Linked DNA regions of Homo sapiens. The protein of the gene in region 1 purifies or fractionates together with the protein of each later gene. This does not show direct contact. Each region holds a gene or a part of one and is shown on either strand. Other genes may lie near its edges.

Region 1 (4,096 bases):
CAGTTTCAGGGTGGAGGATTTGAACACCCCAAACCTTTACTGCAGAGGGCCTCAGCAGGATCACCTGGCATTGGTGGAAACCACACACAAGGTGCCTGGTGACCAAGGCTGGTCAGAAAAGAGAGACCACAGGGGACGCAGCAGGGCCAGATGCACCTCTGCCAAAGAAAGAAAGAGGCGTCCCAAAGGGCCAGTGCATGGAGCTGCGCGGAGGGGAGGAGCGGAGTTCCAATTTGGGCTCCAGAGAGAGAAGGTAAAGGATGAGGACCCGCCGTGAAGGAGGGAGGAGACCACAGGAAGGCCGTGGGGGCTGTGGGCTGAAGGGGGTTTTAGGTGAGAATCGGGGACAGCCCCGGTGGTCGGCGTGGCTGGAGGGTGTGCTTAGAGCGGCCTCCGGAGGGAGAGGTCGTGTGAGCCGGGTGGGCTCCCCCCTCATGGTTCCACTGTCCCATGGGAGCCAGCCGCGGAAAGGAAATGCGCGTTTGAGGAGAAAAGAGAAAATCGCCATCCTGGAAAGTGAGAAGATGGGCTTGTGGGCGGGAGGAGGCACTGGTGGGCGGGCCAGGGAGAGATTCGTGGTCACCGATCAAAGTCAGCCTGGGTCAGCCTGCTGGTGGGCCTTTCCCCCGCCCTCGGTGCCCCTTCGACCTGTCCCTTGGGGGTCGGCCGGGGAATGAGTGCGTGGCCAGGAGAGCGGGTCCCGCTTTCGAGCCCGCGGGGTCTTCTGCAGCTGGAGGGTGCCGTGGGCTTGGGGGCCCCCAGATGCCCCGGGTCTTCCCCCAGATCCTAGGGGAGCAACCGCGAGAGAAGTGGGCGCTCCGGGCTCCAGGTGTCCGCAGGGCGGGGCCTCCGAGGGGGCGGGGATTTGGGGGCGGTTCCTCTGCGCGGGGCGGGGCCTCATAGGGGCGGGGCTTCGAGGAGGTGAGGCGGGGCCTGGGGTGGGGCTTCGCGGAGGACCCTGGGAACGGGCGGGGGCGGGGACTAAAACGGGGCGGGGATTCGCGGGGGTGGGGCGGGTCCTGGGGCGGGGCTTCGCGAAGGAGGCTTGGAGGACGAGGAGGGGACAGGGCCTGGGGAGGGGCTTCGCGGAGCAGGCCTGGGAGACGAGGAGGAAACAGGGACTGGGGCGGGGCTTCGCGGGGCGGGGCCTCCGGGGGGGCGGGGCCTGGGCGCGGCCCGGGCTCGGCAGCTCTCGGGGAAGCTCTGCTCTGGCTCCGGCAGGCACAGGCGGCTCGGGAGGTGCGCGCCGGCTCCGCCCCCGGGCCCCGCCCGTCCGCCGCGCGCCCGCGCCTCCCAATTCCCAGAGCCGGGGCTGGGGCTCTAGGCTGCCGCGGCGGCTCTAGGCTGGGCTGCTGGGCGCGAGGCCAGGGCGGGCCGGGAGAGGCTGCGCCGGCGGCGGATCGCGCAGAGGGCGGTGGCCTGGGCTGGCCGAACCATGGCGGCCCCGGAGCCGGCGCCGAGGCGGGCCCGGGAACGGGAGCGGGAGCGGGAGGACGAGAGCGAGGACGAGAGCGACATCCTGGAGGAAAGCCCGTGTGGTCGCTGGCAAAAGCGACGGGAGCAGGTGGGCGCGGGGGTTGGGGCACGGGGTGACACCGCCCTCCCAGAGCGGGAGGGGCCTGGAGGCTGCGCGGGGCGTGGGGGCGCTGGGAGAGCGCGGCGGCTGGAAACCTCTCCGCGGCCCCTCGCGGCCCGCGAATCAGCCACCCCTGGACCCCTTTGGCCTGGCGCTCGCCCTGGGACTCCCTGAGGGCCAGTCTCCTCCCAGGACCACCTCCCCATGCCTCTGGACTCAGCCGCTAGCTTCCTGGGGATCCCCCTCGACCCCCTGAAACCTGCTCCAAATCCCCTTAGCCCAGCCCTTGGATAGGAGCCCTTGGCTCCTGGGGGCAGCTACCCTCCAAGCCCCACCTTCCCGCAGAGTGGCTCAGGGCCTGCAGCCCACGCTTGGGCCCACTGGAAAGGTGTGGACAGGGACCAAATCCTCACCCACAACCCTGACACACACCAGGGCACACATAACCCTTTATTCACCCCCAGGTAAACCAAGGGAACATGCCAGGGCTTCAGAGCACCTTCCTAGCCATGGACACGGAGGAGGGGGTAGAGGTGGTGTGGAACGAGCTCCACTTCGGAGACAGGAAGGCCTTCGCGGCGCACGAGGTGAGACCGCTGCCCCCTCCTCATCCTGCTTGGGTGACCACCTGCTGACCACCCAGCGACCACCCTCCCTCCCCAGGAGAAGATCCAGACCGTGTTCGAGCAGCTGGTGCTGGTGGACCACCCGAACATCGTGAAGTTGCACAAGTACTGGCTGGATACCTCTGAGGCCTGCGCGAGGGTGAGCACGGGCAAGGCCCCGGGCAGGCAGAGACCACAGCTAGGTGGGGCGGGCATGGGGACGAACCCGCAGCTGGTGGAAATCCTGAGCTCGCACCGTGCAGGTCATCTTCATCACAGAGTACGTGTCATCAGGCAGCCTCAAGCAATTCCTCAAAAAGACCAAGAAGAACCACAAGGCCATGAACGCCCGGGTATGGGGAGCGGGCTGGGGCAGCCACGGGGACAGGACGGGGTTGGGGCAGCCTCGGGGACTGGGATGGTGAGGGGGTGCCCGGCGGCCTCGGACAGGGGCTGGGCGAGGATGCGGGGCGGGCTCCGCAGGCCCAGCCGCCTCTCCTGCGCCCACCCGACCGACGGAGTCGTGCGTCCGCCGCCAGGCCTGGAAGCGCTGGTGCACGCAGATCCTGTCTGCGCTCAGGTGAGGGCCTGGGCTGGCCTGGGCGCGGCGCCACCGAGCCCCCATCTCTCCAGAGCCTCCTGACCGGCTCCTCCTACTCTCCCCTCCCCAACGTCTGCAGCTTCCTGCACGCCTGCAGCCCCCCAATCATCCACGGGAACCTGACCAGCGACACCATCTTCATTCAGCACAACGGCCTCATCAAGATCGGCTCCGGTGCTGGCGGGGCAGGGCTGGGTGGGGGAACGGGGCAGGGGAAGGTGCCTGGAGCCAAGGGCAGAGGAGTTCTGATGCCCCAGCAGCTAACTCCACTCTTTCTCCCGCCCCTTGGCAGTGTGGCACCGAATCTTCTCCAATGGTAAGTGCGGACTTTGGGGGGACGGGGTCCTGGAGAGGTCCCCGCCCGCTCAGCTCTGCGCCCTCCCACAGCACTTCCAGATGATCTCCGAAGCCCCATCCGCGCTGAGCGAGAGGAACTTCGGAACCTGCACTTCTTCCCCCCAGAGTATGGAGGTGAGTGGTGCTGGGTCCGGGTGCCCCGTGCCTACCCTGCGCTTCTCTCCTACGTGTCCTGTGCTCTCTTCTGTTCAGAGGTGGCCGATGGGACCGCTGTGGACATCTTCTCCTTTGGGATGTGTGCGCTGGAGGTACTGCCCCCGCCCTCCACCTTGTGCTCTGCCCTCCTCCTAACTGTGCCCTGCCTGGCTCACCTGTGTGGTCCCTTCCCCATGCCTGACCTGGCTCTGTGCCCCAGATGGCTGTACTGGAAATCCAGACCAATGGGGACACCCGGGTCACAGAGGAGGCCATTGCTCGCGCCAGGCACTCGCTGAGTGACCCCAACATGCGGGTAAGCAGCTTGCCCTGCCCCTCCCCAGCTGGCTCACCGTGCTCAGCTAGGGCTAGCAAGGTGCTCCAGGCAGACCTGGGAGAACATCACAGTTTGTGCAGTTGAGGGGTATACCAGCTGACTGCACCCCTCCCAAAGAGGACCTCAGTGGGAGCACATACTGGTTCCAGGCCTGAAGGCCCTAAGGGGTCAGCACATTCTAAGGACAAGAAGGCAAGAGAGACCCTCCCTCTGTGGCTGCCATCACCATGCCCGTTTTATAAAGAAACCAAGGTTCAGAGGAGATGAGTCCTTTGCCCAAGGCTTTAGAGTGAGTGGTGGAGCCAACATCTGCACCTGGGTCTGCTTCACTCCAAGTCCTTGACTTTAAGCTTCCAGGAGGTGATGAGGCTCCAGCTTGTGGGGGGACATGGTGGGTGCCAAGCAGGCAAAAAGAGGTATGGGATGGAAGCTGCATCCACAGCCCCCTCTGCTCGGAGTCTAGACTTAACTCCATGGCCTCAGGA
Region 2 (3,500 bases), on another chromosome or scaffold:
ATTTCTTGAGTAATTGAATGAATAAATGAATGAAATCCACTTTTTTTTTTGTCCACAGCATACTTCCCTTACCTTCTTCTTTGCTCCCATTCATCCTTTAAGTCTCAGATTAAATGTTATGTTCCTGGAGAGGCTTCTTTCTGATGTTCTAATCTAAAGAGATCCTTTTGTTATAATCTCTCAATTTCCTTTTCTTTCATGGTGCTTATCAGAACTCACACTTTCATATTATTTGTGTGATTGTTTAGTGTCTGCTTTCCCCACTCTAGTCTAAGCTCCATAAGAACAAGGACTATGTGTGTTTTGTTTTTTATTGTAACTCTAACACTGAGCACAGTACTAGGCACAGAATTGACACATGCATATCTTGTCTTGTTGAATGAATGAATGAATATAAAAATTTGAATAATACATGAAAAGCCATGAAGCTCTTGCATCCTGTCCCCTTAGATCATCTCCCTCCCCTTTTCAGCTCCATGAGAGCAGTCTGATGAAGAGGAATGCTAGCTCAGGAAAATCTTTGTCTTCCAAGAACTTCCTTTTGGTCTTGGGGGAGGAAGGTGTTTTTTTATACCACCATGAGGCTATTTTTCCTTCCCTTCTATTAGTGGTGACATTGTGGAAGTATCTGTAAAATAATTCCAGATTGTTCCTGATCCATAAATAGTGAGAAACATGGGATGTAACTTGCTACTATGCTCTTTATTTTTTTCTTTTAACCAGGTACACATCCAAGCCTAAAGAAAAATTAGTCTATGCCATTTTTCTTAAATGGCCCACATCAGGACAGCTGTTCCTTGGCCATCCCAAAGCTATTCTGGGGGCAACAGAGGTAAGAGGGAATTTTACCTTATTCCTTTAAATTGCTGATTAGAACATCTTGATGCAAACATTAACTTTTAAGGGGAGCCTTATAACTGTTTCACTTATACTTCATAAAAGGAATTGTAAATGAGCTCCAGCCAAGCATTGTGGCTCACACTGTAATTCCAGCACTTTGGGAGGCTAAGGCAGGAGGATGTCTTGAGGCCAGAAGTTTGAGACTAGCCTGGGCAACATAGCAAGACCCCTGTCTACAAAAATTTTTTTTAAAGTTAGCTGAGCATGGTGGCACGCACCTGTAGTCCTAGTTACTCAGGAGGCTGAGGCAGGAGGATTGCTTGAGCCCAGTAGGTCAAGACTACAGTAAGCTATGACTGCACCACTTCAGCCTGTCTCTGAAAAAATAAAATAAAATATAATAAAATAAAATGAATTTCACCAATGACAGTGTTTGGTCAAAATCTTTGAAACTTTTTGTTTCCCAGAAAACTAAGCTGATAAAACAGCTGCAGTATCTCTATGCATATCACTGTAAAATAGACATTATTCTTCACAGTCATTTTACGTTGTTCAAGTTCACTGCATGCATCCAAAATGATTCTTCTCATAAAACTAGAATTCGGATGCTTTCCCTGACACCCCACCCCAGAACATATCTGAATACAAGATGTCATGACTCTACTATTTTATGTTTATAAAACATTTTGGAGAAAGTTAGAGATTAATCTAACTGTTGAAACCACCAGATCTGGCATTGAGTTCATTCTGATATATTTTATAACTTATTTTTTTAAATAAATTATCCCTTTGGAGGTGAACTGTCCATATGGGGGTTCTCCTTGCATCACTTTTCTGCATTTCATTTCTAATACATGTGGTTGATGAGGCAGAAAGAAGATGAGTTCAAATCTAATGTTTAATTACAGCTTAGTAGCCCAGGTATGATACTGATTATGTTTTTATTTTATCTATGTTCTTTTTGGTGCCAATTAACATTATTATTTAAAAGCTCATGGGCTTTGTTTTCATATTGATCCACCTGAGAAGCAAAGTTTTTGGTTCAAAATAACCCTAGAATATGTAGGGAACTTATTTGAATTTGCTTAGTATAGTAAGACTAAGAATATAAAACAATTACAGTAATAATTGATCAAATTTATGTATTATTGATTAGTGGAGGTTATTAGAAAATCTGGGGGAGGAACGCTGAGTAGATACTTGGGCAGACTCTGGTTTCAGAGCCACTTTCTGCTCCTGATCCTCTCTTTAGCTTTTTCTCCACTCTGAGACTCCATTCAGTCTTGAAAATTCTCCTTCCCCAACCCCTGCACACTTCTATTTCCCTCTTGAGAGTAAAATAGAAGCAAGAATATAGAGGCAAGATACATACACTCAATTGGATGAAGAGTGATTGTGAATCACTAAATAAAGGTAAAAATGAACCTCTTGTCTACAATTTTGTTTGAACTACTAATCACTCCTTCCCAATAGAAAGTGGGTGAGATAAAGAGATAAATTTGGAGACATTTGCATGTATGTTTTTAATTTCAGGTGAAACTACTGGGCCATGGACAGCCACTTAACTGGATTTCTTTGGAGCAAAATGGCATTATGGTAGAACTGCCACAGCTAACCATTCATCAGATGCCGTGTAAATGGGGCTGGGCTCTAGCCCTGACTAATGTGATCTAAAGTGCAGCAGAGTGGCTGATGCTGCAAGTTATGTCTAAGGCTAGGAACTATCAGGTGTCTATAATTGTAGCACATGGAGAAAGCAAATGTAAAACTGGATAAGAAAATTATTTTGGCAGTTCAGCCCTTTCCCTTTTTCCCACTAAATTTTTTCTTAAATTACCCATGTAACCATTTTAACTCTCCAGTGCACTTTGCCATTAAAGTCTCTTCACATTGATTTGTTTCCATGTGTGACTCAGAGGTGAGAATTTTTTCACATTATAGTAGCAAGGAATTGGTGGTATTATGGACCGAACTGAAAATTTTATGTTGAAGCCATATCCCCCATGATTATATAGTTATGCATCACTTAATATGGGGATATTTTCTGGGAAATGCATTGCTAGTCAATTTTTTTTTGTGCCAACATCATAGAGTGTATTTACAAAATCCTAGATGGCATAGCCTACTACACACCTAATGTGTATGGTATAGACTGTTGCTCCTAGGCTACAGACATATACAGCATGTTACTGAATACTGTAGGCAATAGTAACAGTGGTATTTGTATATCGAAACATATGGAAACATAGAGAAGGTACAGTAAAAATACTGTAAAATAAATGGTGCACCTGTATAGGGCACTTACCACGAATGGAGCTTACAGGACTGGAAGTTGCTCTGGGTGAGTCAGTGAGTGAATGTGAAGGCCTAGGACATTATTGAACACTGCCAGACTTTATAAATACTGTATGCTTAGGCTACACTACATTTATAAAAAAAAGTTTTTCTTTCTTCAATTATAAATTAACATAAGTGTACTGTAACTTTACAAACGTTTTAATTTTTAAAACCTTTTTGGCTCTTTTGTAATAACACTTAGCTTAAAACATAAACTCATTGTGCAAATGTACAAAAATATTTTCTTTCTTCATATTCTTATTCTATAAGCTTTTTTCTATTTTTAAAATTTTTAACTTTTTACTTTTACAGAAACACACACA
Region 3 (3,500 bases), on another chromosome or scaffold:
TCCCCATCCCTTCGTTGCCTTATCAATTCCTTTTTAGCAACAGACAGCAGGTGTGAGGCTCAGAGCTTTCACCACATACACATCTGAGTTAAAAGCCAATCACATTATATAATAAGTACAATTAAAGGACTCAACCATAATCTATTTATGGCAAATTATATTTGTTTTTCCTTAAAGGTAGTATTTCATCTCCTTTTAAAATGAATTTAGTAAGGTTAAAAAAAAAGGTGGAGACAATTTGAAAATAAAAGCTAAGTAAATAATTGTACACGTGTTCCACAGATGTACTACAGGTCACCTGGGCATGGCTGAAATTTGGAAGCCCCTGATTTAGCCCAGTGTCCTTCTTTGCTTAAGTCTCCCAGCCTGTGCTGTCCACTATGGCGGCCACTTCCCACAGAATTCACTAAAATGGTGAATTCAGTTCCTCAGCAGCAGCAGAGATCCGTGTGTCTCCTGGCTAGAGGAACTGAGTGAGACTATGCAGAGACAGGATGCCCCACAGGGGCAGGGGACCCCCCCACCGACTTGGCAGAGCTGTTCCAGAAAAGGGCTGGCAAATGCTTTCTGTGAAGGTCGGACATAAGCATTTGGGCTATGCAGCCCATACAATCTCTGCTATGACCACACAATCTGGCAGTGGTAGGGTGACAACAGCCACTGACCATACATAATGCATGGCACAGCTGAGTGCCAACAAAAATTTACTTGCAGAAAACAGGCACAGGCTGGATCTGGTCTCCGGGCAGCAGTTTTGGAGCACTGCTCCTGAGTATCCTGCAGGTCTGCCTGTAGGCCCCCGTGACTGGTGCCGAGCCCCTGCCCAGGTAGCCCCCACCCAGCTTTGCAAGCGTCCGTGACTCCACAGGTTCCCTTGCTCAGGATCTATCTTACCTTCCAGGCTGGTCAGAACAGTGGCCAGACAGAGCACGTCCCCCACCACCATGGCCCCAGACAGCTCTGGGGAGATGGCCTGTAGGACAGGCAGGGGCATGAAGTCCGAGAGGCCCGGGTGCTCTGCGTCCCACACACGGAGCAGTGTCAGGCCCACGCTGACTGTGCGGACAACGCAGGTGTTGTTGGTGGGGCCCTTCCCGATCTGCACAAAGTCGTCTCTAGGCACAGGAGAGAAAGGAGGGCTCTCAGTCTCGGGAAAGAAGCTTCCAACTCCCAAAGGGAGAAACGTAATCCATGTCCTCTGCTGAGCAAAGCATTCAACTGACTGAGGTCCCAGGTGTGGCCCCAACTCGAGGTTACCAAGCAGTGGCCCCAGATGAGGGACCACTGCAGGCAGGTGGCACAGGCTCGACCTCCTCACTTGTCATGCCAGAAAGCACATGCAGCTCGCAGCCAAACAGTGGCAGCAGCATCATTCCTGCATTTCAGAAAGGAAGCTGAGGCCCCGAGGGGAAAGAGATCCAGAGTGCTTCCTCACGCTCTTCCCACCAGGGAACTGGACATGCCAGAAAGGGAAGGCTGCCCTTACTATGCAACCTGACTGCAGAAGCAGCCTCTGCCCCTTTCCTCCTCTGAAAAATGGGGATCATCACGTGACCGTGACGCAGGCCTGGCATAAGCATTACATGAGGTCAGCAGTGGGGAGGCACCTGCCACAGGGCAGGTGCTCAGTCAATGTTGGCAATGGCAGCTTTGGTGCAGAAGTGTGGACTGCGTGGGGTGACAGTTTGGGTTAGGGATCATGGCTGCATCCTTGCCTCCACCACACCTTCTGACCCTGAGTGCTGACTAGGTCTCTATCAGGTGCTCCTGCTACAAGAAGGCCAGAATGACCTGCAGTGCAGCCAAAGGGCTGGGAGAACTGGGCTCCATTTCCTCCAGGACATGCCCTAAACTGATGGATGGCAATTATGTGCGCACACACGGAGTGCCATGGTTTGCCAGCGGTCCTCATGACCACTCCCTCAGCTGAAGGAAAGCCCTGGAACCTAGGCCATATTGCCCAACGTGAGAGGTGTGGAAACAGATTTTTGGATGGTGACCTACTCACAGGGCCCACGAAGGGCAGAGCTGGGGCTAGAACCAGGCCTGACTCTAAACCCCAGTTCTTTCCATAAGGCAACACCCCTGACACCTGTCTTTGAATGCATTCAGCAACAGGGAAACACAACTGTGGCAGGACCTGTGGGCAGCCGAAGCTGAAGGGCCAATTTCCTGTGCCTCGGGGAGCACTCCCTGGAGCTGCCCCATGCCCTGTTTCCTCCTTTGGGGGCTGATGCCTGTCTGTCTTCCTCTGAGCTGGTCTACATCCCCCAAGGGCAGTGGTGTTTCCTCGTGGCCCTGCATGGTGCAGCATGCCCACATCTCTTGGAAACTGAAGTAATACACATCTTCCTTCAACAGCAGCAGACTTTCTGTGTTATCCCCAGTTGTCTCTACCAGGTACCAGACAGGACTTCATAGGAGAAATGACCCTTGCCCACATCCTACCTGTTAGTGGCAAAGTTGAGGACCGAACTGTGAGCATGGAAGACATCTCCAGAGTTGTCGTGGAAGTGGACAGTGAAGGTCACGGTCATTCCCAAAGGCACGGCCACCAGGGCCTCCTTGTTCTGGGTGTGCAGGACAGGGCTCATGGAAACCCTCAGGTAGGAAACAGGGGATACCTAAGGGACAACATACAGGTATGATGAGGATTCAGTGCCAGGGACTGGCCTCCAGGAAAACCCACCTCCCAAGGAGGGGACACCTGCCCCCAGCAGGATCCACCTCAGGAACAATGCAGGGCTGGACTTAGGGGTCCTGAGAGGAGTAAAGGCCACACTCCCCAGAGTGTCCCAACCTAGTGACAAGGTTCTTACTTCCCAACACAGCAGACTGGCCTCTCTATGAGAAAACCCACCCAGGAGTGTCCCAATCCATGACTTGAATAAATGAGATCACTATTTACATTGCAAGAGGGCCCCCTGGGCTGCAAATGTCCAGTTTCTTCAGAGAACCTGGCTCTTGGGGCATTTAAAGAAACGAAATCCTCCTCGATCGCAGGGGCAGCGCTAAGCAGGCCACAGCATGCCCTGCAGGCCACCAGGGGAAGGAGGGAAATGGGGATTTCTGGAGCCCAAGAACCCGAGCTCCATAAACAGCAGCCCTTGTTTCTCTGAGTCCAGGTGAAAATCTATCCTCGCTCAAAAGCTAGTGCTCCAAAGGTCTGAATTTCTTTAACAAAGTTCAGTGGTGCAGTGTCTGGTATACAGCTAGTGCTCAGTACATATTTGTTGAAATAGGATGAGCAGTCAGTCACTTTCACTCACCAAAAACTAGAGCGGGGGATTTGCTGCCAGGCACCCATTTTGAAACAAAATGATGTGAATTAATGAAAGAGGTCTGTGACCCAGGCAGAGTCTAAAGATTTAAGTGAGTGTGTGTCTTCTGTCATCCAGGGTTCAGCAAGTGGTGATGATGAGACATGGAAAGAAAATTCCATTCAGCAAAACCCCAGGACCTGACCCAGGGATGCTGATGGAGAAGGTCCCATCCGTAAG
Region 4 (3,500 bases), on another chromosome or scaffold:
TGGCTGCAGGGAGGCCAGACATTTCTTCATTCAATACGTACTTCTTAGTTCCCAAGCAGTAGTTCTCTATATATTCTGCCCAATGTAACTGCCGTACATCAATATTGAAGGTCTACGTTAACAAAAAAATTACTGATTATTTTCTTGACTAATTTTTCTCACAACCAGTCAGAAATTCACACTTTTTCTAAAGGCCAGTTCCAAGTGACATAATTACAAAATTCTTAAATACAGAATTAACTTCTGAAATCTTACCGCTAGTCACTGAAAAGTTTGTATTCCTAGTTCATACCATCCATTAAACATGGAAACATTTGAGAAGATAATCTGGAAACTAATGTCAGCATTTAAAGAGAAGTAGGTTAAATATAAGAAGAAAAAAGCCTGTACCATTTTGCTAAACAAAGAAAAAAAAAGACAAAATTATATTGTCCACATAGATCTATGTATTCCTCACTACTTTATGCACGTACTGATACATTTCCAGTTCATGCCTACTGAACAGACTAATTTTCCTGGAGAATACTTCTGACATCAAGATGCGTTATGAAAACAACATCTCTGACATCAAGATATGTTATGAAAGCTGGCTAAGGAGTTTGGATAACAGTAATTAGATTATTTGATGAGAAGGATAGGTAAATCCAGAAAAGAAAGCCTTCAGAAATGTTATGGCAAAGTAAGAGGGCTATGCATTGCTCAGTGCTCCTTAGCATATAATAAGATAATTTTTTGGAGTTACAAAGATATTATTCAGTATATACCATCACTTATCTAAAAATAGCCAATTCTAGGAAGGGAAAGCTACTATAAAAAATTCAGTAAAATATAAAAATGCAGTAACTCTGCATTAAAATGAAGACTTAGGAAACATTTTGAGAAGGTATATGTGTATGTTATTGGGAATCCCATAAGAACAGTTATTTAAAAAAAAAAAAAAGGAAGAGAAGCAGTATCTGAGAAGACAATGCCTGGAAATTTTCCAAAAATAAGAAACCAAGTCACCAATTCAAAACACAAATACAACTCCCACTGCCCCCATCCCTGCCCCCACACACATCTAGGCATATGAGAGTCAGAAAAAGGTCCTATAGATTACCTCCAAAAGAACAACTATTAGACTGTAAGTTGACTTCTCAACAGAAGCAATGAAAGCCAAAAGACAGAGATGTTTTCTAAGTACGCAATGAAAATAAGTCCTAAATAAAACTCTATGCCAGTGTAAATATCCTTGAAAAATAAAGGTGAAATAAAGATATTTCCAGAGAATAAAACCTGAGACAATCTGACATCAGCAGAAAACCCATGTTAGAGAAAGTAAACTTAAGGATATTCTTTAGGCAGGAGAATGATTCTAGATTTATGTCTGGGGATGGAGGAAGAAATAAAGAGCAATAAAAGGACAGTTACGCTGGTAAATCTGTATGAATATTTATTGCATAAGCTGCAATAAAAATACTGGCTTGTGTGGCTTAATATATATATAGAATTAAAACATGCATTATGGCCAAAACCACAATTACTTTTGCACCAACCTAATAACAACAATAACAGATACATGCTGATCCTTCACTATCAGAGAAGGATAAAAGTATCAATTTATATTAGACCTTGCTAAATTAAAGGACATTGTAATCTCTAGAGTAACCTACTAAACCAAAAAGGAACATAATTCTATGTAACACATATAGATGGGAAAATATTAAATTATTCAAAACATAATCTAAAGGGCGGCCAAAAAAAAAAGAAAAAAGAACTTAAAACCAGAGTGACAAATACAAAGCACTACTAGTCAGACTAAATCTAAAATGATAGGAATTACATAGGGGTTAAGTTCTCCAATTAAAGGTCAAAAATTGTCAGACTGAAAATAAAAACTAACAGCTATATGCTGCTTACAACTAACTATATGCTGCTTACAAAAGACATATCTAAAAGATAAGATACAAAATGACTGAAAATAAAAGAATGGAGAAACATACACCATATAGTTCTACCAGCAATGTGTAAGGATGCTGATTTGTCCAGGAACTCACTAGAGTACATTGTCCAAGTCTGCATTTTTGTAAATTTGATAAATAGTAAATAATATCCCAGTCTAACTTTAGTCTGCATTTCCACTGAGTAAAGCTGAGTATCTTTTCAAATACTTGGGAATCATTTTCTGTAAACTGTTCATCTCTCTAATCTATTTTCCAATAGGATTACTTTTTTTTTTTTTTTTACTATTTTTAAATAAACATTTTATGTACTAGGTAATGTATACTAAAATCATTTTGTTATACCACTATATATCACCTAAGTGGCTAAAATTGAAAATCAAAATTAAAAGGCCAAGTGTTATGGAGGATGTGGATTAACAGGAACTCTCATACACTGCCCTCTGGAATGTAAACTGATACAACCACTTTGGAAAACTGCCATTACCTGCTAAACTGAACATATGAATGCCCTATGCTATCCTATTTCTAGGTATATACCCTACACAAATGTGTACATATAGACATAAAGAATGTTCATAGGATAATTATTCCTAATAGCCAGAAACTGGAAATAACTCAAATGTCTATCAACAGAAGAATGAAAAAATACTGTATAATACCATTTATATAAAGTCAAAAATAGGTAAAACTAATATTGAGTGCTAGAATTCAAGAGTTGTTCCCTCTGGGAAGACAGAGGAGGTAGTGATTAGGTGCATTAGTCCATTCTCGCAACCCTACAAAGAACTACCTGAGAATGGGTAATTTGTAAAGATAAAAAGGTTTAACTGGCTCATGGTTCTGCAGGCAGTACAGGCTTCTGTTTCTGTACCCACCTGTGCCTCTTGGGCACTTTTAATATGGCTAGTCCAAACTGAGACATGCAGTGGAGTATAAAATGCACTCTGGGTTTTGAAGGCTCAGTATGAAAAAACAGAAAGTAATATCCTTTAAATAATTTTTAGGTTTTTGATATGTTCAAACAATATTTTTGATTATATGTTAGGTTAAATAAAACATTATGAAAATAAAAAAAGTAAGTGGGAAGAGAAAGGAAGCTGGCACTGGATGAAAAAAGAAACTCTTGAGAAACTGTAATGACCCAAATCTACAGTCTTTTTTTTTTTTTTTTTTTTGAGGCGGAGTCTCGTTCTGTCACCCAGGCTGGAGTGCAGTGACACAATCTCGGCTCCCTGCAACCTCTGCCTCCTAGGCTCAATCCATCCTCCCACCTCAGCCTCCCAAGTAGTTGGGACTACAGGCATGCGCCACCACGCCTGGCTAATTTTTCTTTTTTTTTTCTGTAGAGAGAGGGTCTCACTTTGTTGCCCAGGCTGGTCTCGAACTCCTGAGCTCAAGTTATCCCAGCACTGGCCTCCCAAAGTGCTGGGATTACAGGTGTGAGCCACCACGCCCGGCCCCTACTGTCTATTTAAGGCCTACATTAATCTGAGTTGTGCTAAAAACCTAATCAGATATTTTAAAGGGGCCCTGGCTTATAAATGCCAGCTAGCTAAT

Evidence for each region. The genes of interacting proteins can lie anywhere in the genome.
Region 2: the proteins of NRBP2 (region 1) and FUCA2 purify together in Homo sapiens (affinity purification with mass spectrometry; one large-scale study listed by BioGRID and IntAct). This does not show direct contact.
Region 3: the proteins of NRBP2 (region 1) and NUP210 purify together in Homo sapiens (affinity purification with mass spectrometry; one large-scale study listed by BioGRID and IntAct). This does not show direct contact.
Region 4: the proteins of NRBP2 (region 1) and FAR1 purify together in Homo sapiens (affinity purification with mass spectrometry; one large-scale study listed by BioGRID and IntAct). This does not show direct contact.

The regions. Positions count from the first base shown.
Region 1 is NC_000008.11:143,838,174-143,842,269, reverse strand, and holds the start of NRBP2 (nuclear receptor-binding protein 2), read left to right. Parts: upstream 1-1,296; 5' UTR 1,297-1,435; coding exon 1,436-1,564; intron 1,565-2,040; coding exon 2,041-2,163; intron 2,164-2,239; coding exon 2,240-2,341; intron 2,342-2,444; coding exon 2,445-2,534; intron 2,535-2,720; coding exon 2,721-2,761; intron 2,762-2,861; coding exon 2,862-2,956; intron 2,957-3,074; coding exon 3,075-3,098; intron 3,099-3,169; coding exon 3,170-3,253; intron 3,254-3,331; coding exon 3,332-3,387; intron 3,388-3,494; coding exon 3,495-3,590; intron 3,591-4,096. UniProt on the Homo sapiens protein: May regulate apoptosis of neural progenitor cells during their differentiation.
Region 2 is NC_000006.12:143,494,721-143,498,220, reverse strand, and holds the end of FUCA2 (plasma alpha-L-fucosidase precursor), read left to right. Parts: intron 1-723; coding exon 724-832; intron 833-2,373; coding exon 2,374-2,514; 3' UTR 2,515-3,409; downstream 3,410-3,500. UniProt on the Homo sapiens protein: Alpha-L-fucosidase is responsible for hydrolyzing the alpha-1,6-linked fucose joined to the reducing-end N-acetylglucosamine of the carbohydrate moieties of glycoproteins.
Region 3 is NC_000003.12:13,326,323-13,329,822, forward strand, and holds part of NUP210 (nuclear pore membrane glycoprotein 210 precursor), read right to left. Parts: intron 2,625-3,500; coding exon 2,449-2,624; intron 1,116-2,448; coding exon 895-1,115; intron 1-894. UniProt on the Homo sapiens protein: Nucleoporin essential for nuclear pore assembly and fusion, nuclear pore spacing, as well as structural integrity.
Region 4 is NC_000011.10:13,724,168-13,727,667, reverse strand, and holds part of FAR1 (fatty acyl-CoA reductase 1), read right to left. Parts: intron 113-3,500; coding exon 1-112. UniProt on the Homo sapiens protein: Catalyzes the reduction of saturated and unsaturated C16 or C18 fatty acyl-CoA to fatty alcohols. It plays an essential role in the production of ether lipids/plasmalogens which synthesis requires fatty alcohols.